Linked DNA regions of Homo sapiens: all the other regions are linked to region 2. Evidence: fine-mapped expression QTL. A gene starts in region 2. Each other region holds a variant in brackets. All regions are shown on one strand. Distances are from middle to middle.

What was found.
Region 1: its variant is fine-mapped to the expression of CEP78 in memory regulatory T cells (Schmiedel 2018, PIP 0.91).
Region 3: its variant is fine-mapped to the expression of CEP78 in whole blood (TOPMed, PIP above 0.99).

Annotation. Positions count from the first base shown.
Region 1 is chr9:78,207,483-78,215,670 of GRCh38, forward strand. No RefSeq gene overlaps it. Among named protein-coding and RNA genes, the nearest start is that of CEP78, 24 kb to the right of the region's middle. RefSeq lists an enhancer at 3,515-3,834. The variant A/C (reference allele first, on the strand shown) is at 3,783.
Region 2 is chr9:78,232,979-78,241,166 of GRCh38, forward strand. CEP78 (centrosomal protein 78) reads left to right here and starts at 3,097. Exons shown (of 17, transcript NM_001330691.3): 1 at 3,097-3,625; 2 at 7,045-7,217; 3 at 7,314-7,386. The coding sequence starts at 3,373. RefSeq lists an enhancer at 2,826-3,495 and a silencer at 3,121-3,490.
Region 3 is chr9:78,262,719-78,270,906 of GRCh38, forward strand. CEP78 (centrosomal protein 78) reads left to right here. Exons shown (of 17, transcript NM_001330691.3): 12 at 189-266; 13 at 1,432-1,598; 14 at 2,654-2,825; 15 at 3,141-3,188; 16 at 3,724-3,985; 17 at 8,123-8,188. The coding sequence ends at 8,133. Among named protein-coding and RNA genes, the nearest start is that of PSAT1, 30 kb to the right of the region's middle. The variant C/T (reference allele first, on the strand shown) is at 4,137.

The DNA of each region.
Region 1 (8,188 bases), 25 kb before region 2:
GAGCTGACCTTGTATCATACCAGGACAATTGCAAGGAAATTACACACGACTCAAAAATGAGGCAATACATCATGATGAATGTGTATGGTGGTGCATTTGATGTTGCATATGGTGGAAATACAGTTTTCTCCATTAGATGGGGAGGTGTTAAAATGTACAAAAATAAACATATTTCACTTTTTTTTGAATATTAACTTTCACTAGTGCTAATATAAATTTCATTTTCTCTTCTATCTGGTAGAACAAAGCTCTAAGATGCCATTCTCGCTTATGTACTTCTGAGAAAATCATTCAGGAGCAGGGTTGCAGCACATTACCCAAGAAAAACAGCCCTGAGAATGTTTATGATTAGGCCGCTTGTAATAGGTAATTTCTATCTCTATTCTTGACATTTATTCCTAGAATATCAACCTGGGGGTGGTGATACATCACCCTACTCTTGATTTTGGAACTTTTAATATGAGATATTTTAAAAACCACATCTCCATCTGTGATCTGGGGATAAGAGAATAAGCTAATAAGCATTGTGCCTGAGTTACAATTTCTAATACTGTGAAAAGAAGAGGCCACATCAATGGGAAAAGGAAAACAGTCTCGTGGGAGCAACTCTGAGCCTCGTTAATGTACCTTATCATTGGTTCCAAAATAGAACCAGCGGGAATCGTACCAGCCCACTATCTGGAAGCAAATAATTAATCACTGGGAAAGGTAATTAAAATGTGGCAACAAATGAGCATAGTAAGCCATAATATCAGATAAAAAGTATACTGGAAACACAGGAAATAAAGTATAGAATTAAAAAAAAGAAGCTATAACAATGTAAAATTTCCTAGTTATCTCTGCTAGTTTTCTCCTCCCAATTCCACAATCACCTCTAAATTAAAAATGAAAATGACATGCATCACTTATCAAAATAATATGAAACAAAAGCCTGTTCATGTTTGTAAACACATTATAAAAACCTAGGATTATACCAGTAACATTGAAATACAGTTGACAAAATATTAAAATAATATGTAACATGTACTGCTTTATTAATAAATAACAAGATCTAGCAGCTGGGCTAACTACCATAATTTTGTTGTAAATTATAATACAAGCTATCTGCAAAACCAGTATGTGATGTGAGCATGTGAGCCTTCATTCTGAGTCTCCTGACACGTTTTCTCACCATCAATCTGAGGGCTAACACATCTGTTTCTGATATGTGGACTCCTGAGAAGAGAAAGCATTGAGAAGGGTCCTGACCATTTCTGTCCTCCCCTCCAAGGTCTCTGAAACTATGATGGAGCAAGTCATTTTGATTATGAAGTTGTTTATGGGTGCAACCAATCATAAAAGTTCCTTGAGACTTCTCATAAAATAAGCCCCAAGACTCTTCCAATTCCTTTCTCACAGTTCAGTGCAACCTAAAAGTTGCCACTAGATTTAAAAAACCCTTGTAACTATGACTTGTGATTACTAGAGAGTCAGACTGCCACAGTGATTTCACTCGCTGTAAATCCTCCCACATGGAAAGCTAACTAGTCTCTGATGCCAGCCTTGAGAGAGTTGGGGATTGGCGAAGCAGTGAGGCTATCCTCATGGTGATAAGGAAACCAACTTATCCCCATCCATCATTATCCTTCATCATGAGTGGCCAGATGTAGATGTCCATCCAGTATGAACTAGTAATTAGAAGACTTGTTCCCTCTCATGCTGACACACACTTATGATTACAGTTGATTCTCAGTGGGTTCTACGATCCATTCTGCATGGTCTAATTAACCAAGAATACAGTAAAAGCATGGAGAACAAGTCAATGGCAGGCGCCTAGAGCAGTAGCTCTCAAACTGCCGCATGTCGCAATCACCTAAGGAGCTTTTGAAAAACACTGAGTCTAGAACATGCCCCCATACCAAATAAATCTGAATATTTGGGGCGGGACCCAGGGATCAGTACATTATTATTACAATTATGAAAAAAAGGAAGACAATTAAGTAAAACGACTATCTCATTACCTCTTTGGGTGGTAGGACCACGCATTACTTTTTTCCACTTTCTAATTTTCTTTGCAATTTGGGCTTTTTGTGATAAATGTGTATGGCTTTTATTATACGTAAGTCATCAATCAACTTTTGCTTTAACAAACACATTGTATTTAATTTTTTGAGGGTGTAAGCAAAATAGTAACCATATCAACCAGTTTTCTCAGTACTTTTATGCCTCTGTGGATGAGCCCAAGAAGCTCATGGAAGAAGTGGAAAAGCTGATCCATACCTTCAAAGATTTAGTAATGACGACATCAATGAGAAATCAAATGAGGATCTGGTTTCCATAGGGCCACCAATGAATAATATCTCAAGAGTAAATGAATATTGCGGGTGGCTAGTAAATGGCAGTTGCAATGATATCACCTGCAAATCCTTCAGGTTTATACCTGATATGAAATTATGATTATGTGACAAGAGCAAATCTTTCTTTTTTTTAATTTTATTATTATTATACTTTAAGTTTTAGGGTACATGTGCACAACGTGCAGGTTTGTTACATATGTATACATGTGCCATGTTGGTGTGCTGCACCCATTAACTCGTCATTTAGCATTAGGTATATCTCCTAATGCTATCTGTCCCTCCTCCCCCTACCCCACAACAGTCCCCGGTGTGTGATGTTCCCCTTCCTGGGTCCATGTGTTCTCATTGTTCAATTCCCACCTATGAGTGAGAACAAGAGCAAATCTTTCTTATGCAATTGGCTGTTCCTTGAAGATTTTGACTGAGGAATCAAGATACAATATATATTGCACTTCAAAGTGAGTTGCTAAAACAAAATACAAATTTTCAAAATAAGTATCTGAACACCAATGACAGAACTCATCCCTCACACACATTAAAAATACAAAGAGGATGAAGTACATGGAGGTTGAAGGTGAAACTGGGAGGAGGATTTTGGAGATAGATGTTGGAGTGCTAGATACCTCAACAAGGGTGAGGAATAGAAGATGTTTCCCACTTAACGGTTTTAAGGAGCCCACATAGAGAATTCAAGATGTGCTACATTCAGTTTAAGGCAGCAGTGTCCAATCTTTTGGCTTCCCTGGACCAAAAGAAAGAATTGAAAGACAATTGAAAGAATTGTCTTGGGCCATACATAAAAATATACTAACAGCAGCTGATTAGCTTTAAAAAAAATTTGCAAGCAAATGTCATAATGTTTTAAAAAGTTTATGAATTTGTGTTGAGCTGCATTCAAAGCTATCCTGGGCTGCATGCAGCCCATGGGCCACAGGTTGGACAAGCTTGATTTAGGGGACTATACTTGTGTCTGATTCCCACTAAGAAATGTAAACACAGTGAGATAGAAGTATTTAGAAGCTGATCTAGGAGAGGTGGCTGTGGCCAAAGAAAGTGTATTTCCTGAGGAAGAGGTTTGTACCACTCTTGAGAGGCAGGCAGTCTGGGAGCATCAAGAATCTTTCTGAGGGCTATCTGAAGACTAAGAGAACATCAGAAGAAGGAAGCTAGCTGTGGGTCACTGGATGGTGAGAAGTCGCAAGAGGAGCTGCCAGTGACCAGCTAGAAGAGACATCATTTCCCACATCAAAGAAACGGAAAGAGAAGCATCCCCCAACAATGGCAGCTTTCATGATAACCCACAAAAAATGCACATAAGAGAAAAAAACAGCTTCACGCTCCAGCAAGCAGAAGCCATCCACTGACAACATCAATCAAATAAGAACTTTCTCGCCCTTTTCACTTCCTTTCCCACCTTGCAGTTCCAGCCTGAGGAAGCCAAGACAG[A/C]CTTTTACAGGTGGCCTAATCATAGCCTTGATGGGCAGATGGAGGGAAAGTGCTATGGGTAGGATGGAGAAGTCGACCTTGTCCTGAAACAGTACCACAGTGGGAAAGGCAGGATGATTGACCTTTGAACGAAGATTAAAATTTTGATCATCGCGTGGGACTATAGGAGTTTTCAATCAGGAGAGAGGAAGAACGAAACAGTTAAAGGGGCACTGGGAAATAAGAAATTGTTTTACAGTTATATCACATGAGTTGTCTTTATTCCACATAGTGGCTACACAAAAGAGGGCTTTTCAAATGCCCGTATCCTTTGACTCAGTCATTTCACTGCAGAGAAAGTGTCCTGCTGTAGCTTTGTAGTCGAAAGCAGCTTTTTTGCTTGTTTGTTTATTTGTTTTCAGGATAGATGTTCATCTTTGCTCTTGGAATGTTACTCTGAGGTTTTCTTGGTTAGGCAAATCTAAAGAAGGAATGAAGACTCCATTGTCTGGTAATTAAGATATACTAAGACTTCCATCTCCAAAGGAAAATGGAGCAATACTCTCCCCATGCCAGCCTACCTTTATGAATTAAAGAGGTCCATGAGGCTAGGTTGAGAGCCAGTAGGAGGCTAGCCAATAGAGTCATTGAAATAAATTAACCATGGTACTTCTGGAGAAGTGGTTATCCCTATAAACCCAAAGCGCTAAAGCCTGGGACTCCGGCCTATTCCAGCCCATGAGAGTATAATACAGTGGGGTTGCCTTCTCTTGCAAGAGTGCCGAGGTTACGGAAGGGCTCTGGTCCAGCCCAACAGGGAGCTCCAGCAGCTTCAGAGACACCTTCCCTGTGTAGCAGTTTTTACCTTCATGAGGCCCAGACTTTCAGGTGGGAGAAATTTAATGGAGGGCCTTGGGACTTCTACCTTAGTGACTCAACCAAGTCCCAGTGCCATCTTACCCGGCACTTATTTCAGCTCCAAGGGACAGTAATACCACAGCCTTACTGTGGTTCCATCCCCCGACCTGGGGCCAGGGTGCCTTAGATGCTTTACAGGTGGCAGGATGAGCACCTTAAAGGGACTTCAGAGGGGTATCATGGGTGCCTTATCTCTGAACACAACCTATGCCTTCTAATGCACTTTCTCAGCACTACAGCTGCTCCATGAGTGTGGGACTTCACTGCAACTTCTACACCTCCCACCCAAAGCTAGTGTGTAGTGGGCAATGGCCCTGCCACAGGGTCAGCACACCAAGGCCCTCAGAGTCCCACGCTGGGACTCCTTCTTCTCAAGGCATCTGCAAGACTAGTTCTCACAGAGATAAGGTGACAACCTCTGCTTAATAACCATCTTTAAGTGTATGAGCCTGCTATTTTATTTTAACTTCAGTATTACTTCCCTGCCTTACACAGGTGTAAAATTTCAATCCCCTGGCTACCCTTTTATGGCTTGATGGGCATTTAAGATGACCTCTCTGTGGTTCAGTTTGGCCCAGAATTGTTTACTTGCATCTTTGATGAAGAGGAATTTTGTTTACAGCCTCTAGGCTTCATTCAGGCAGACCCTATTTCCAAACAATCCTTTTACAGAGGTAACTGGGAGGCACTAAAGAAAAAGCATGTCACTTAAGTAGGGAACTCATACTGTTGCAGGGGATTATGGATTATTTCTTGTGGAAAGTAAAAAAAAAAAAAAAAAAAAAAAAAAAAAAAATGCTCTCCTTGTGCTGAGAAGTGTTGGGAAGGACAAAGAGTAGGCCAAGTGGGAGGGCTCAAAATGAGCCTGTTCTCATCTCACTTCTGTGGAAGAGCCAAGCTTTTCAGTAAACCACATGAGATTACTAAGGCTAGTGCTTAACTTGGGGTTCATGAGGTTTGTAGGCTCTAGCCAATTCTGAATTTCAGTTCTTTCACTGAAGTTGTGTGAAAGTATTGAGTTTATATGAGTGTTTTCTGGGAAAAGACTTGATTCTCAAGGAGATTCATGATCTCACAGCTTCAGACTCTTGCTATTTGAAAGTGTGATCTGAGAATTATCTGTACGGAAAACACCGTATTTTTTAAAATGTAGGTACCAGGCCCACTCATTCAGAACTTTTTTTGATAAATAACAAATAATTTTTTTAGTATCAGTAGTTGCAAATTATTGCAAGGATCATACTTATACTAAAAAGTGTATTCATTGTTTATCTGCAATTCAAATTTAACTAGCTGTCCTGTATTTTGATTTACTAAATCTGGTAACCCTAACTGATAATGGGATGGAAGAAACTCCTTTTTTTAAAAAGAACCTCAATGCAAGGGCTGTTTTTTCATAAATAAAATTAATACTATACCACTGATCATTGGACAAGTGAGATTATATCACTTGTTCACTAAGGCCTGGAATATACTTCTAGTCCCAGCCTAGAGAGGATTTTTACAGTCATTGGAAGCAACCATGTGCTTTATATCATAGAGTTTTGCAATGTACAGTGACCAGGGGAATAAGTTTTCGTTTGTGCACTCCAACCTTGGAATTTCTGACATTACTGATGTCTCTTTGTGGTCTTAAACCAAGAAGTCTGGTTAAAAAGTTGCTAAGGATGGGTCAAGAAGGCAGCGTTTTCCTTTCTGTTTTAGAGCAGACGCTAATAACCACCCTTTTGGTAAAGGAACATTGCCACCTAGTAACAGAATCAAGTATTTTCCTCTGGGCTCCAGACAAAGGATTGACTCCAACTGCACATTTTCAAGTGCACACGTTTGTGAATTTGGGTTTTGGTTGCCTTCCACTTAGCATTCAGCATTTGTAAGCTTTCCACAGAATGCAGGGAGAAAAAGCCATTTGTCAGTAGAGCCTCAGTTTGTAAGAGGCAAGTGGGAAGGCTTTTAAAAAGGCCAGCAATATCAGTAAGAATGGATTCTCCTTAGTATATACTGGCAAATAGGAGAATAAAACAAGCAAAACTGAGTGGATTTTGTGGAAAGAAACTTCTTTCTGCCAAAAACTGTGTGGATGGAATTGCTATTTATGTTGCAATTTGTAAAATGACTGAGTTTTTGATGCATGCACAAAGCTGAAAAAAATTACTAGTAAATAGTACATAGAATCTCATGTATAAAAATAACCTTACTCAGAAGCATTAAATTTGGCCCCCACTTGAGATCTGAGGATCAACTAAGTGCTCCCTAAGTCCAGCTAATTCTGCAGTCTTAAAACCCATACCATGGATTCATGGTCTCACGGTCTCACGTGTGTTTCTAATATAAGGGATAAATCTTGCCATCACAAAAAAGAAACTATTTAGTTAGAAATTCCCAAGTGTTAGAAGTAGGGCTTTTTTTTTTGTCTTCTTTTGCTTAGTAAGGGGGCTATCACTATTCAAAAAAATTCAACTTACAAATTTAATAGTCACTCTTGGCTTAATGCCACCTGTTTTAATAAATAGGCCCTTGTGAGCTGTGGCAACAAGGATTGTGTTGCTGTTATAAATATTTACTGTCCCTTACTTGATGCTGAAAAATCCAGAGTCCAGAGTAGCGTAGTCTTACAGTTGGTTACTAAGTATGGAAGTGTTTTGCAAGTTTATACAACCTCCATCAATGAGGTTATTTTACATATTAAGAGAAAAAAAAATTTGAACATTTTAACTTTCAATTAAAACAGTCACCTATTACTTCTTGAACACTTAAAATAAGCCAGACCTTGAGCTACAAGCTTACATAAATGAGATGGGTATCATAATGCCCATTTTACGGATGTAGTTTGGAGAATTTGAGGAATTTGGCTCAGATCACACAACTAGTAAGTGTCAGAGTTACACTTCTGTGCCACTGGTTGGTCCTCCAGAGGCCCGGAGAGCTACCTTACCAGCAAAAGAAGTAGTTAAATTCTTTCAGTACTTAGCTACATCTTTTCTTAAGCCAGGCTGAAGCTGGTAACACCTATGTATCTAGCCAAACTGCTTCATACTATGTCCAGAGAGAAGGATGGTTGAACTCAAAAGAAACCCATAGCAAGATCACCAGGTCGTGATCGCATGACAAAAGGTGACCCTACCACAGGAGATTCCAAATGTCTCAGGTAGGTCTGTGGACATTGGGTAATGTTCCGGGAATTGAATGTTACATAACAAACCACTCTAAAATTTAGTGGATTAAAAAAGCAACTACATATATTTTGCTCACGAATCTGCATTTTTGGGCAGGGGTGAGTGGGGGTGGTTCCTCCCTGCTCTACTGAGCTTCAGCTAGCACAGCTCAAAGGCTGGGGTTGGAATCATCTGAAGGCCCGTTCCCTTAAATGTCTAGCTGTGGGCTGGGGCCTTCGCTGGGGCTGTCAGTTGGATCTTTTATATGTGGCCTCTTTATATGTTCTAGGCTTCCCCACAAAATAGTAGCTGGGTTCCAATGGTGATTATCTATTGGGAGAAAGATTCAGGCAG
Region 2 (8,188 bases):
TATGTTGTTGGCCAGGTTGACATTGCTCTGTGCCTGGATCCATCAAACCTCACTGCTCTGGAAGCAAGTACAGAGAGGATGAATGTTAGAGATAAGCAGATGATATGGCATTGTGGTTCTATGGAAAGGTAAGTGGGCTAGGAAGTCGGGGTATAACAGTCTGGATTGACTGGGAGTAGAGTACAGTGAACAAGTGCTTAAATGATACCATTTACCTGTATTCTACTCAAACACTCACTCACCAGATCCCCTGAAGGAGGAGAGCTCATCTCTTATACCACCCAGTAGAACGTCCCTCCCAAGTCATGCACCTGCAATGAAGCCAAGGCATTTTGTCTTGGGCCAGGTGTGAGCCTGGTTTGTCAGAGGATCCCAGAGGTGCCACAGAGAGACAGTTTTCATTCAGTGTTCAGGGAAGTGTGTGGGTGAACCCACCAGATGCTGAAAGGAGAACTGGAGCCATTCTTTTTTTGAAGCAACTATTAAGTCATAATTTAACTGAAGCAGAGAAGAGATTATCAGGCAAGCCTTGAAAGAAATCTTGCCACACTAAAAATAAGTAAGCACAGGAAACATAAATTTTAAATGAATATGTTAAATGATTATTAATATGAGGAAGACTTCTCTGAGCTGCATTCATAGGCAGTGGCTACAGGGTGCTGGCAATAGCTTGCGGGGATAATAGGGAAGAATGTTCCTACAATTAGTCATTAGTTAGCACTTTCTCTGTGCTAACACTGTGCTAGGCATAGGGAATGTAAGCATGAATGAGACATGGTTCTTGCCTTCAAAGGGCTTTCAGACTCTGGAAGGAAAACCATCTAAAAAGATGTTTATCATTGGATGTTCTAAGTGTTATGCTACAGGGATGTCAGGGAGCACAGCAGTGAGGTGCTAAACAAGCAAGGGAGGAGAGATGAGGGTTAGAGAGAAACAGGCTTTCTAGGGAAGGTGCCCCAAACCAAGGCTGGGAAAAGAATGGAAGTTAGCCGACTAAATAAAGGAGCAGCCTATGAAAAGACCCAGACAGCAACAATAGGACATCAGAAAGTTCAAGCAGTTCTGTGTATCTAGAGAAGACATGCCAGGAAGAATGTAGCAAGGAGAGAGACAACAGAGATAGTCAAATTATGAAGGAGCTTGTATGTCAAGCTACGTGACATAGATCTGACACTGAGGGCAGTGAGAAATCTTGGCTTTCTAGGGGGCAATTTAATGGATGAAGAGATCTATCTGTGTTAGAAGTAATCTGCCTAGAGTGGGGAAGTTAAGGCTGAGCAGAAGACAAGAACACCCAGAGAAACTGTAAAATGTCAGAAGGGGTGAAAGCTGAGGGTAGAAACCTGACGAACAGCAATATTTAGAGTGGATATGCAAGAGAAGCCAAAGAATGAGACTGAGAAGAAGAAATTCGAGAGGTAAAGAAAAAGAAATCAGGTGGCTTCATGGGAAACAGGGAGGAGGGAGCTTTAAAAAGGTAATGGACACTACATTAATTGATGCTGGAGACTAGAAAGAAAATGGATAGAGCAACAAAGAAATCGTAAAGTTGGAAACAATTTAAATTACCATCAACAGAAAAACAGACACATTACTGTATGTTTCTACATGGAACTCCCATATAACAACAGGGAAAATAAATGAATATCTCTATATGTCAACACGGATGGACCTAGTAAAGGTAACGATAAGTAAAGTAGGAAAAGAAAATATAGAATGTTATATACTGCTTACTTACATATGTAGCAGAAATATAAAGACATACATTGCAACGATGAATACCAAGTTCAGAAGAGCAGTTATCTCAGAGTCAGAGAGTAGTCGTGATTGGGAAGGTGGTTACACAAAGCTCTTCAACAGGAATGGTAATGTTTCATTTATTAAGCTGGTTTATGAATATACAAGCGTTTACTATATTAAGATTTGAGCATGTCGCACATAAAAATAATTGGTGACCATATCTCCGGAATTTTAGAGACGCCTGCATATGTGTGTTGGAAGTAAGTTGGAGTATCCGGAATGCAGTGGGTGGAACAGGAATGCAATAAACACAATGTCTAAGGCTCTACCGGAGGACTATCATTGCTCTAGCAATTGCATACCAATAGAAGGAGAGGTCAATTATCTGGATTCTTCCACTTAGCTTCCACTTAACTTCCCCGTTCCTCAGTTTCCCCTTTTGTAAAGTAGAATATAATAGTATATTCCTTGAGATGTTAGGAGAATGAAATGATTTCATACTTAAACATTGCTTAAAATAATCCCGAGGACATTATTTCAAATAAGTACTAGTTACAAGGGAGTTAGCCAACATCATCGTCAGTACAAAACAAACTGATTCACAGCAAACACAATAAAGTCCTGAATTCATGAAACACTCTTCAATTTGCCAGGAACCGTGTGAGATATGCAGAAACTACAGAAATTAAGGCTTATTTGTAGATATTAACACAGACATAAAAGATTTAATGACCGCAGTTCACGTTCAATCAGCCGTTCCCACATCCCTTGAGTGCAGTCTCTGTGCTGGCTGGACACTGCAAGCACAGACACATTCCTCAGATGTTTAGACTTTTTTTAAAAGTGCGTTGTTACATCCACATTTCACTTTTTATTTTCTTTCTTTTTTTGAGACGGAGTTTCGCTCTTGTCGCCCAGGCTGGAGTGCAATGGCAAGATCTCGGCTCACTGCAGCCTCCGCCTCCCGGGTTCTAGCGATTTTCCTTCCTCAGCTGGGATTACAGGCGAGTAGCTGGGATTACAGGCGCCCGCCACCATGCCCGGCTAATGTTTGTATTTTTAATTGAGACGGGGTTTCGCCATGTTGGCCAGGCTGGTCTCGAACTCCTGACCCCAGGTGATCCGCTCGCCCCCGCCTCACACAGTGCTGGGATTACAGGCGTGGGCCACCGCGCCCGACCACACATTTCACTTTTATTCGGATCGATCAGTAAACTCTTTCGCAAACCCTCAAACTCTCCCGACCACTATCTCAGGTAGCAGCGAACTCACCCGTCCTCAGGAGGCGGGACCTGCGTGCCGACGCACAGCGAGCACGTTGACGTCTTGGCGCACCGTTCCACGGCACCGCCCACCGGCTTGAATCCCGGCGCCTCAGAGGACTATGAGGCGGGCGCCAACTGCTTGGGCCGCAGGGCGGGAGGCAGCGCGGGAGTGGGGCGTTGAGGGGCCGGCCTAGCTTGGGGCTCTGGCCTTGCGTCTTCCGACCGAATCACCGCTCCTGAGCCCGGTGCGGGGCTGCCGCTATCGCCTGGCCGTGGGTGCCGGAGCGGCCGGGTTGCGACTCAGCGTTCTTGGGTGGGCGCGGGCGGCGTCTCCGCGGCGGGCATCCCCCGAGGCCGCCCTCGGGCCATGATCGACTCCGTGAAGCTGCGCCGCGACAGCGCGGCGGACTTCTTCTCCCACTACGAGTACCTGTGCGCGCTGCAGAACTCGGTGCCGCTGCCCGCCGTGCGCGCCTGTCTCCGGGAGGGCGTGCTGGATTTCAACGCCGACCGCCTCCGCGGGGTGGACTGGGCGCCTCTGCTGAGCACCCTCAAGATCAATAAAGACCTGCCCTTGGTCTCCATCAAGAGCTTCTTCCAGCCCTGGCTGGGGGACACAGGTTTGTAGTTCCCGCCTCCAGGGCCCCTCAGTCGGTGCGGCGAAGTGGGTTTTTAGGTGAGTGGTGTCCATTGTCGGGGTATGTGTGCAATAGAAGGGGTGTGCGGCCTGGACACTCACGAGCTAGGTGAGTGGCTTAAGGTCTCTAGGGCTTCAGTGTGCTCATCCGTAACATGGGCTTAATAACGAGACCCAGGTTATGTGCGCCTTCGCAAGGATTCCCTGCGCTGCTGATGCCTGCAGAGCTCTTAGCACAGTTTGGGACATCATTAAACATTTGACAGATGTTACCTATTTTATTGAATGACTTTGATTTGCCTGATAGAGAACTAAGCAGGTAGGAAATTAATACATGTCAGCCTTTGTCTTTTTTTTTTTTTTTTTTTTTTTTTTTTTGAGACACTGTTTCACTCTGTCGCCCAGGCTGGAATGCAGTGGCAAGATCTCGGCTCACTGCAACCTCCGCCTCCCGGGTTCAAGTGATTCTCCTGCCTCAACCTCCCGAGTAGCTGGGATTACAGGCGCGCGCCACCATGCCCGGCTAATTTTTGTATTTTTAGTAGAGATGGGGTTTCACCATGTTAGCCAGGCTGGTCTCGAACTCCTGACCTCAGGTGATCCGCCCGCTTCGGCCTTCCAAAGTGCTGGGATTACAGGCATGAGCCACCGCGCCCGGCCTGTCTTCATTTTTTAAGGTGTATATAAGAAGTTTGTAAAGTGCTTTACAAATACAAGCCATTTGTAAATGTATAGTGGTATAATTAGGGATCCAGACTCTCTGATTATTCGGAAAATATGTTAGGTCAACTATGATATATGACAAAATGCTGTTATTCCTTTGAGCACTTAGCATTTTCTACATAATGGAGGCAGCTTCCTATAGACGCTAGCTAGGTAACAGGAAGGAACAGTTTGTGCAAAAGTTTTGGAAATAGGAGAGAGTATGCAAGCTGAGTTACAGGACTGGAATTTAGGTTTGAGAAAGAGCAGAGAGAGTTGAGGCTGGAAACCTTGTGGGGGCCAAACAGGGAGGGTCCTCGTTTGTCCTGTCATAGAGTTGGATGTTTATCCTGAAGGTTTTGGGAAACCGCTGTAGGATGATGAGATGGAATTTCCGTAGGAGCTCAGTCTAGCCTCCATATGGAAGACAAATTAAAATTGGAAGGATGGTGAATTGTAATCTAATGGCCCAAACTAAGGTATAGAAAAGAAGGGCTGGGGCCGGGCACCGTGGCTTATGCCTGTAATCCCAGCACTTTGGGAGGCCAAGGCGGGGGGGTGTGGATCACCTGAGGTCAGGAGTTCGAGACCAGGCTCACCAACATGGTGAAACCCCATCTGTACTAAAAATACAAAAAAAAAAAAAAAAAAAATTAGCCGGGCGTGGTGGCGGGCACCTGTAATCCCAGCTACTTGGGAGGCTGAGGCACGAGAGTTGCTTGAACCCAGAAGGTGGAGGTCGCAGTGAGCTGAGATTGCACCGTTGCACTCCAGCCTGGGCAACAAGAGCAAAACTCTGTCTCAAAAAAAAAAAAAAAGAAGGGTAGGATTTCAGATATCTAAGAGAATGGATGGGCGTGGTGACTAGTTAGAAGAGGGGGGCAGCAAGTATGGGTGACAGTTTACAGCAGCGTCTGTAAGTGAAACACAGCAGCGTCTTTCCATGACACAGCCGAGTTAACTCGAATGAGATTGGGGGTGGGAGGAGGATCTCAGTTTGTCTTTAATGTTTTAAGAGGGGCCTGTGGGGCATCCAAATGTGTCTGCTAGGCAGATCTGGGCCCAAGATTTAGGCTTTGTGGGAGGACAGGTATTTGAAGGCATGGGAGGGACCTAGATTACCCACAAAGAAGATCCAGATAATTGTAGGTCTGAAAGGTGTTTTTTAAGTGGATATGGACGTGAACATGTTTATAAGCTGAGAGAAAGAGGGAGGGTGTGCGATCTGGGAGAGGAAATGATTATTGATGTATTTAAAAACAACCTGACCACTTGTCGTGTGCCCGGCCCTTTTCTAGGCTCTGGGGTTAGCACCATCTCTTCTGCAAGGACAGTTCAACACATCTGCTTCTGAAAATAAGTCAGATTATTCTCTACATCTCATTCAGGTGCAGGAACTGTTCTGTACCTCTGAATGGACTTTAGTTAACCAAAATAATATCAGGAACCAGGCCAGGTGCGGTGGCTCACACTGGTAATCCTAACACTTTGGGAGGCCAGGAGTTTGTGACTGGCCTGGGCAACATAGTGAGACTCCTGTCTCTACAAAAAGTAAAAAATATTAGCTGGGCTTGGTGGATCTCTTGAGCCCGGGAGGTTGAGGCTGCAGTGAGCCATGATTTTGCCACTGTACTCCAGCCTGGGTGACAGAGCAAGACCCTGTCCATGACCCTCCCCCTACAAAAAATAAAAAAACCAGGAACCAAAATAAATTAAAGATGGGAGGGACCTCAGAGTCAAGGCTAGCCTACTAGATCTTGCCTAATATTTTGCACTGAATGTAAGAAAAATGTATTACAGACCATTCTCGTCAGATATTCTTCACTGAACCTTCTTTATCTCTTGCATCTAGTGGGTCTAGGTTGTAGATTTTAACCTCCTACATATTGCTTGTCCATCCTTAATTACATTTTGCCTGGACTATTGCAGACGCTCCTAGCTAGTTTTGCTGCCGTTGAGCTTGGTTTTTCTCAGTTCATCTGCCTACTTTGGTTCAAGTGATCTTTCAAAAAGGAAAAGACATGCTTAAAGTGGCATGCCCACGCAGGACCAGTGTGTATTGGTTGCTTGTGTTCTGCACAGAGGCACTGAAATCTCAGCTGTGTTCTGTTAAGCCTCCTGGGGTTAGTTGGTCTTGAGGAAGGGGAGCTTTTTCTCATTTCCTTTATCTCTTTGATACTCCAACAGTGAGGCACATTTTTCTAACCTGCTAGGGGTATCCTTAATGTGTCAGTGGTAGCCCTGATCCTCATCACCTGTGAGGTAAAAGTGAACTCTCCTAGGCTTGCTTCTCCCTGCCTCTTTGTAAATTTCTGACTCTTCCGGCTACGGCTCTGGGCTTTAGTCGGATCCACCTGCAGTTTTCCAGTGCCCGGCAGGTGTCAGGCTTAGATGCCTTTGCTCTCGCTGCTCCCTCTGGTTAATGCATCACCCACTCTCACCCCATGTTGTCATTCTCATCTTTCTAGATTCAGCTTCAGGATTATCTTGAAGCCATCCTTTCAGTGCAACTTCTTTGCTTCCATAAGAACCTCTATGTACATAGTTTGGTATATCCCATGTGGCTTGAGTTTACATGTGTCTGTGCTTAAGAGGACTTTAAAGGACATGGCTCATTTCTATGTCTTAGCACAGAGCAGATGTTTTTGAATGATACATTGTATGATTGAAGTCACTAACTTTCTTTTATCTTTGTTTTAGGTTCTGACATGAATAAATTTTGCAGAAGTCGTGTTCCTGCGATAAGATACAAAGATGTGACCTTCCAGTTGTGTAAAGCTCTTAAAGGCTGTTTAAGTATATCAAGTGTGCTAAAGAACCTGGAGCTAAATGGACTAATTCTGAGAGAGAGGGATTTAACTATTCTAGCAAAGGTAAGCTTTGTCTCATTTGGCTTGTAGACATTTGATAGTTGCTTTTAGAGGAAAAAAAACCTCAATAACATTTTTAACTTTTCCCCCTCATTAAAGGGATTGAATAAATCGGCTTCTTTGGTGCACCTGTCTCTTGCAAATTGTCCAATTGGAGATGGAGGTTTAGAAAGTGAGTTTAAATCTCATTTAACTCTTGTCCTATCAGGCTGGTTTCATGTTTCCCTACATGCCATGTTAATTCCTGTCTGTACCTTTTTTCTTACTACTGCCTCATATGCTTGTTCAAACCTTGGTCCAGTCTCAAGTCTACCATGAAAGCTTGGCATGCTGAATGTAATCTGAACTAACTTTACTTAAGTTTGTGTTAAACCACAGACCACACAAATATATACCATCTGGTATTCTCTGTTTTTTGTGTTTGTTCATCTTTTAGAGTTTTTCTTCAAGAAATATTTATGGGAAGGAAATAGCAAAATGTAAAGAGGCCGGGCGTGGTGGCTCACGCCTGTGATCCCAGCAATTTGGGAGGCCGACGTGGGCGGATCATGAGGTCAGGAGATTGAGACTGTCCTGGCTAACATGGTGAAACCCCATCTCTACTAAAAAAATACAAAAAAACTCACCAGGCATGGTGGCGGGTGCCTATAGTCCCAGCCACTCAGGAGGCTGAGGCAGGAGAATGGTGTGAACCTGGGAGGCAGAGGTTGCAGTGAGCCAAGATCACACCACTGCACTCTAGCCTGGGCGATAGAGCAAGACTCCGTCTCAAAAAAAAAAAAATCATCATTACTTTAAATAATTAAAACATATATACAATCAATTTTAATGCACTGTGGTATGTTCCAAAATAGGAAATATAAGCAAAGTGCTGTATAGGAGCATATAAAAGGCTGACAGACTTGGGGGGAAAGGGTTGGGATCATGGAAATAGTCACAGAAGGTGACTGTTCGTTGGGATCCTGAAGTCTTGT
Region 3 (8,188 bases), 30 kb after region 2:
AATCTGATGTTTTTGGTAATTAATTTCCCTAGCATGGTATGATATTATACAAGCAGTAGGCTATAATCCTGATATCTGAGTTCACTTCTGGCTCTGTCCCTAAACACTTGGTGAGCTCAACAGCTGGAAGAGTTTTGGGGATCATATTGGGAATTAATTATAATATTTACTTTATTACTTAATACTAGGAAAAACTGGAGGAGTGCCTAAAGCAGTTAAAGGAAGAAAGAGTGATAAGGCTTAAGGTTGATAAACGAGTCAGTGAGGTAAATAAAAGTTTTCTTACCTTTTGAGAGTTTTTTGTTTTGGTTTTGGTTTAACTTTAAGTCATACATACACACACTTTATAAACTTTAAAATGAGAAAATATAGTGTATTGCAAATGGTCACAGTATGTTAATGTTTGTATTTACTTATATTTGGTGACCGTGTGATCTGTATTCCAAAAAGCATGTTTTTTAAAAATGTAAAAATTGTAGTTTGTTTTCTTTTCCTCTGTTTTTATATGACTGGAGCTTATTTTCTGTTCATGATGCATCAATTCAAGAATGCATTTATTAGGCTTATACTGTATATACAATTGCGTAAAAGATGGGGATGAGACTATCTACTGAAGGGGAATTAGGAAAATGAATAAATAAGGTAAAAGATAATGGAAAACCGGTAAGAATGCAATGAAAGATAAAAATCTATACCATGAGGACTAAATTAGGTGAATGTGCATAAGAGCAGGGCATAAACTAGAAAGTTCTACATAACTATAATTTATTATTACAAAGCAAGTTTAAGGAGGAATTTTTGAAAGTATATGCATTGGTTTGAAAGACAGTTAATCATTCAATAAAGGTTGAGCACCTGATTGTATAAGGCAAAAGGTGCTTTGTGAACACAGTGGCCTTTCTGAGAAATACTAGAGTTAGACTTATGTGTAGTATTAGATAAATAGATTTGGTGTACAGGAGAGTACATATTTTCAAGAAGCAAAGGGGCAATATTGGTAATTGTACAGTTAGTAAATTGGGTATGATTTAGGACTTTTAAATTTATATATTAAGTATTTTACTGGCAAAAATTAGTCCTTAACAGCCAAATTGTAAAATGCTTACTCTTTATTTCATTGTCTAATTTAAGGGAAACCTTAAACAGCTAATTTTTAAATATAGAATGATCCAGGTATGTATTTAAGCTGTTAGAAATGTGATCTTTTTGAAAGATAATTAATGAAATACTATTTATATTATTTATGTAGGAGGTTTTGTCAGTTATCTCCAGGTTTTGATTGTTATTTAATATGGTCTGTCTTTACTGGTAGAGAGTTAGATTAACTGCAAATTAATTACATTTTTAAAATGTTTTATTTTAGTTTCATAAAAACTATTTTGGTGATAATGAGAGAAAATCATGTCACACATTTTCAATCTTCTTTTATAGCTGGAACATGAAAATGCCCAGTTAAGAAATATAAATTTCTCTTTGTCTGAAGCCCTTCATGCACAGTCATTGACAAATATGATCCTGGATGATGAAGGTGTTTTGGGCAGCATTGAGAATTCTTTTCAGAAGTTTCATGCTTTCTTGGATCTCCTTAAAGATGCTGGGTTAGTTACTTTCTCCCTATGACATTCGTCCCTCCATGACTTTAATGGTGTTTTGCTGAGGAACTTGAGCAATTTTTATAGCTTTCTGAAGTCATATTTACTGTGTAATTATAAGTAATACACTTGATTTTTTAAATGTGGAATTAATTTTAAAAGAAATGCAAAATGACAAACCTGCCTTGGTTGAGGGCCCAATATGAAAGAGTAAACTTATCTGGCTTGGTGGTTTGCACCTGTAATCCCAGCTACTTGGGAGGCTGAGGCAGGAGGATCACTTGAGCCCAGAAATTCAAGGTTAGCCTGAGCAACATAGCAAGAGCCCATCTCTTAAAAAAAAAAAAAAAAAAAAGAGTAACTTGTAGATAGAGTAATTGGTAGCTGTGATTCTTGTTAAAGACCAAATTGAAGGTAGTTTTAATTGAAAGTATTCAGGAATGTATAGGAATTTTTCTTTTATTCACTTTGCTTGTTAAATAAGTTTGAATTAAAATTAAGTTTGAGATATTAAAATTGTTATTAATCTGCAGGGTAGATATAGATATAGATATGGATCAGTGGTCCTCAACCAAGAATGATTTTGCTGAACGAATATACTGAAAGAAAGAGTTGGAGATAGATAATTGATAGAGTTATGTTTTGTAGGTGAACGGTTTGGTGAGGAAAGGAACAAACATATTCTTGAGGACTGGAGGAAAGGTGGTATAGATGTGTGGGGATGAAGGTGAGAGGCAGTAGGTGTGTGGTAGAAATTGCAGCTTCTACTGAGACAGTATATAAAATACGGAATAAGTAAGGAAATGAAGTCAAGAGGTATCTAATACATTGTTGGGGGAAGAGACAGTGCTTAAAGGATTGGATGATATGATATGGTTTGTCTCAGAGAATAAATGTGGGAAGGTCTGAGAAATTGGGAGGGATGGGGGTGTAGTCTGGAGTAGGATAATGGGTTTTAAGATTTTAGAAGTATTTAATGATTGTAGGTTTGGGGAAATGTAAGCTGTTCTTATGTGCTTCTAGTAATCCTTGCCTTTTCCTCCTTTTCTTCTCTCGACCAGGCTTGGGCAGCTTGCCACAATGGCTGGGATAGATCAGTCAGATTTTCAATTACTAGGTCATCCCCAGATGACTTCTACTGTTAGTAATCCACCTAAAGAAGAAAAGAAGGCGCTTGAAGATGAAAAACCAGAACCGAAGCAGAATGCCCTAGGGCAAATGCAAAATATCCAGGTAAATGAATAGAACAGAACTTAGTGATTCTACAAGTGATTAGCAAAAAAGGGAATTACTAAGTCAGAGAGAAAAGAATAATGATCTGTGCACATGCTCAGGGACCAGAAGCATCTTTGGGGTCCTTTCCAAGACTGAGATTAGTAAGTTTGTGCCCATTTCCTTATATTGTATTGTTGTAAATAAAAAATAAGAAAGTTCTTTTGAAACTTTATGATTTAAAGTAGACTATCCTCAGTGAAGAAATGAAAGATTAGAGAAATGATTTTCAATTTTCAATTTTATAAATGTCTATTCTATTCATATTCCATCTAGGTTTCTATTTGTATGCAGTCAGCTTACAATGAAGGAACACTAATGAAGGTACAAGTACTGATATAGATAATTTTTCAGAATAAGTAATTCATATATAACAGGCAGTATATTATAGGCATCATCTAGTTATGGGAATGGGAGGGGCAAACCTGTCTGCCACAGGAGTCCCCTGCTGCTTTTCCTCTGGCCTTACTTGGAGCCCCCATCTGCCATCTCAGCCAGTCTCAGACTGGTCTTGGCAACTGACGACTTGAAAACTCAGTCTACTTATAAATTGGATACTGCTTACATGTGCATAGAGGATAGGAAAGATACTAATTTTCTTATAGAATAAGGTTCTTTTTTTTTTAATGAGGGAGACATAAATTAGTAATAATTACAGAAAACACAGAAGTCTGAAAATGTGCTGGACCTACTCCTGGCTATAGCTAAGTTAAGTTGGCAATCACTTGGCAAGATATAATTAGGGCAAAAATGACCTGGAAATCTTCTAAGATCACAGAATAACATTGACGTTTTGAACTCGATTTTTAAATGGATGGCTTTGTTTGTCACTAAATTTTTGTTTTGTTTTTCCTTCTAGTTTCAGAAAATTACAGGTGATGCTAGAATTCCTTTGCCTCTCGACTCCTTTCCTGTCCCAGTTTCTACTCCAGAGGGCTTAGGAACTTCCAGCAACAACCTAGGAGTCCCAGCTACTGAGCAGCGGCAGGAGTCTTTTGAAGGATTCATTGCTAGAATGTGTTCTCCTTCACCAGATGCGACTTCTGGAACTGGAAGTCAAAGAAAAGAAGAGGAGTTGTCCAGAAATAGCAGATCTTCTTCAGAGAAAAAGACCAAAACAGGTGAATATACCAAAAAACACTCTGATAAGCAACACCCTGGAAAGGACCTGCATTCCTGATCTGACTGTCCTGAAAACCAGAAAAGCAAAGAAACTAGGGAAACTAGTTCTTTGGTTAATGAACCAATTAAAAGTAGGTCTTTGAAAAAATA[C/T]GTTTCTGTCAAGAAAGAAAATAGAATAGTGACTGTTTCATCCAAGACAAATAAAAGTAAATCCAGTCCACTAGAACATTCTGAAAGTGATACTCTTGGATGTGATTTTGAATTTCAAGAAAGCATCCATTCTCTATCACACCTTTCATATGACTAAATCTTTTGAAACTATGTTTTTACCTTTAAATTTTAATAAATTTTCTTATGTTTTTATTATGGCATATGGTGTCTTAAAATATAGGATTGGAAGCCACTAAAGGAAGATTTCTCTATACTTTTTATTATAGTGAAATTTTTGGTCTGTTTTTCCCTTTGATAGTTTACAACATTGATTCAGCAATTGTTTACTGAGGGGCTAGTATGTATAATATCATTCTGGGTGCTATGGCTTTCAGCAGTGAACAAAACAAAGCCTTTAATCTCAAGGAACTAACATTCTGTGGAGGGAGAAAACAGAACAACAAAGCAGAGTACGATGAATAGAAAGGGATGGGAGTGAATAAATGGAATAATTTTACCATTTGGTTAAATTTGGAAATAAATATATATCACATGGCCAGAAGCCATTGACATATTCTAATATATAACCAGAGCAGCAAACATGTCTAGATGCTTAAGCATGTTCATGGATTATAGCAACCCTATAAGATAGGGAACTATTAATATTATTATGTCCATTTTATAGATGAGGTGTCTAAGGAGACAGATTATGTGAATTGCCCAAAGTTGCACGGCTGTAAATAGGTGGTAGGGCTGGGATCTCAACCAGAACCCATACTTTAATGAGCTATCCTGTTTCACTGTTAAGAGAGGAACCACTTAAGGAAGATTCTGAGAAAAAAGCCAATGAACACTATAAGTAGAAAAGAGTGGGGCTATCAGAAAGCACACCTGGGTTGAATTTTTCAAAGGCAGAGTTAGTAAGAGTATGGATATAAATCTTTGGAGTAAATACCCCTCCCTGGTAAAATATGCATAGATAAGTCCTTTCCTACAACCAGACTATGACTTGAGAGATGAGATGAGAGAAAAGCTGGAGCGTCAGATTTCTTCTGGATGGTCTTGCCTGATTGTTATCAAAAGGGCTACTACAATACTACTGAGTTCATTAATCATGGATTGACTTATGGGAATGAAACAATGAACAAGATGTAATCTTGGCTTTTTAACAGTTGAGTGAAGGGGAGATACACAAGCAGATGTCGTAATACCGTATATTACATTCTATGGTGGAAATGCTGAGGGAGTTTAGTCAGTGTGGGGAAAAAGGAGGAGAGCAGTGGGGCCAAGAAAGGCCAACTAAAGAGACCAAAGGTCATGTTAATTTCTAAGCTAAGTCTTAAAAGTAATGAGTTACAGGCTGGTGAATAAGAAGGTGAAGGGGAAGGATACTCAGGGCAGAGGGAATAGCATGAGCAGAAGTACAGAGCCGTGAGTGTGAGTATGTGCGTTTGAGGAACCACAAACACAAGTAGTTGAGAGTTACCGAAATGTCATCAGGCACTAGCAGATGTCGCTCAAGGAGGCAGCTAGGGGAACAAGATCGAGTCTTATAATCCACGTTGCATGGAGCTGGTTCTTTTTCTTCAGTAAATAATGAGCTAGTAAAGAATGGAAGTTATATGCTCAGGCTTGCATTTTAGATCATTAGCTTTAGGCTGATACATTAAAGAAGTGTGGAGATCAGTTTTCCACACTTTTCTGAAGAGCATTTGTCTTTGATTTTTAAATGGGACTTATCCTCCCAATTCCTCTCCTACTGAAATAATTTTTAGACAAACATAAAGGAGACCCTCGCATAAATAGAATTAAGCAGGTTTCTTTTCTTTTTTTTTTTTTTTTTTTTGAGATGGAGTCTTGCTCTGTCGCCCAGGCTGGAGTGCAGTGGTGCGATCTCGGCTCACTGCAAGCTCCGCCTCAGCCTCCCCAGTAGCTGGGACTAGAGGTGCCCGCCACCATGCCCTGCTAATTTTTTGTATTTTTCGTAGAGACGGGGTTTCACCGTGTTAGCCAGGATGATCTTGATCTCCTGACCTCGTGATCCACCCACCTTGGCCTCCCAAAGTGCTGGGATTACAGGCGTGAGCTACCATGCCTGGCCGCAGGTTTCTTTACAGTAGTACTTCTCAAGGGTGCTAGAGGCTAATGTTCATTCTGAGTCTTCAAGACAGGCATATGGTATGCAGCCCTTCTCAAATATACTTGTTTATAGAATCCTTTTTTAATAGGAGTGCCTAACAACTGGTGCCACGAAATGCCAATTTAGTAACTTACGACTTAGCAAGAAGAGAAAGGGATCTAAAATAAGGTATAGATGAAGGGAGGGAGTAAGTTTTAATCTTATTTTGGCAATTAAATAAGATTTGGTTATGGGAAGTAAGGAAAAAAGAGGCAGTGGGTGGACTTGTGTTTCTGTGACTAAGGTTGGGTGGTGGTATCATTGAGGCTGAGAATATGGGATAAAGAACTGCTTTGGAAAGAAGAGTTTAGTTTGGAGCAGGTTGAACACATCACCTGCAGATTTCAGGAGGAAATGACTGGTAGATGATTGGATGTACATATGAAGACATGGAAATAAAGAATTTGAAAGTCATCAGCACATATAAGCAGTAGTTAAAATCATAAAGTTGATGAGAACACAGAATTGTGGGGACTGTCAAGGTTTAAGTGATAAGCAAAGAAAGGATTCTGAGAGAGACAAGTGATAAGAGTGTCAAGAAGGAAGAAGTAGAATACAGTGTCACATGGCAGAGAATAAGTGTCCACGGGATTTTGACAGTTAGGTCCCAGGTGACCTTAATGAGAGCAATTCACTGAATTGGTTGATGAAAATGCCAGATTGCAGTAAATTGAGGGGCAGGAATGCCCTGAGGGGGCAATGAAAACTAGGTATAGGACTACTCTTTGAAGGAGTTTGGATGATAAGAGGAAATGGAGTTAGCTGAAGAGGAATTTTTTAGACTAAGGACTTAAATGTTTGTAAGGTGAAAGGAAAGAACCAAGTAAAGAAGGAGAGGCTCATTTATGCAGCAGGATCTCAGACAAGCAGGGACATGAGATACTTTAATGTTCTTAAGACTAAAAGAAACAGATCTGAACAGATGGGGATGTACATATTTGAATTCTTGATGAACTTGAGATGACTCCCATACATGTAGTGCAAAATGGTTAGATAAGTAACTTAGAGAATCTGGGAAAGAAATATGGATTAGAAAATAAAATCAGGGATGGGGTCACATTGTAAAATATGTAAAAGTTATTGTAGAGTTGGGGGATCCTGGGAAGTGTGGACAGAGACAAAAATGGGAAGAGTTAGAAGTTAAATGAGTTTATACCTGATAACCCCAGTTTTCTTTAACCATGGATTTTTACAAGACCTACACACAATCACATAATTATAGTTTTAAAATTCTTCCATATTTTACATATATTTTATCAAACATTTAAAACCGTAACATTAAGAGTTATAAATGTGGATATTTTGCTGCTTAATATATACAATTTTAGCCCTGCAAGTAATTGTTAAACTTTCAATATACCTGAAATAATATCATTTAATTTTGAAATATGGTATTTTCATTTGGTTTAGAGAAAGGTACAAGTGTGTTCCTTTACTGAGAAATTACTATGCACCTTTACTGAGTACTTACCAGCACATATACAATCTGTATGCAAACAGGACCCTTTTCAGAAAACATTCAGATGTGATACTGTAGCAAAGAGCTTGTCATCCTGTCTTAAATTCACACATAATTACTAGTGGTCAAAAATCATCACTCTTGCTTGCCCATCCAGTTCTATATCCAATAATGAGTTCGTCCAATTTCAAATGGGTATTTACAGAATCTCTAATCTCAAGACAGTAACACTTGATTTTCAGAGGATCGGCATGATAGGAGATGATTGGTTTTTTGAAAAATTCTGATTATAAACTACATGCTGGAACATTAACATGGATGACTGAACACATTCTTTTATGCTTCTAGAATCCCATTGAAATGACTGGAGAAATATTAAAATAAAAATAATAGCAGAGTTGGAAAACCAGAAAT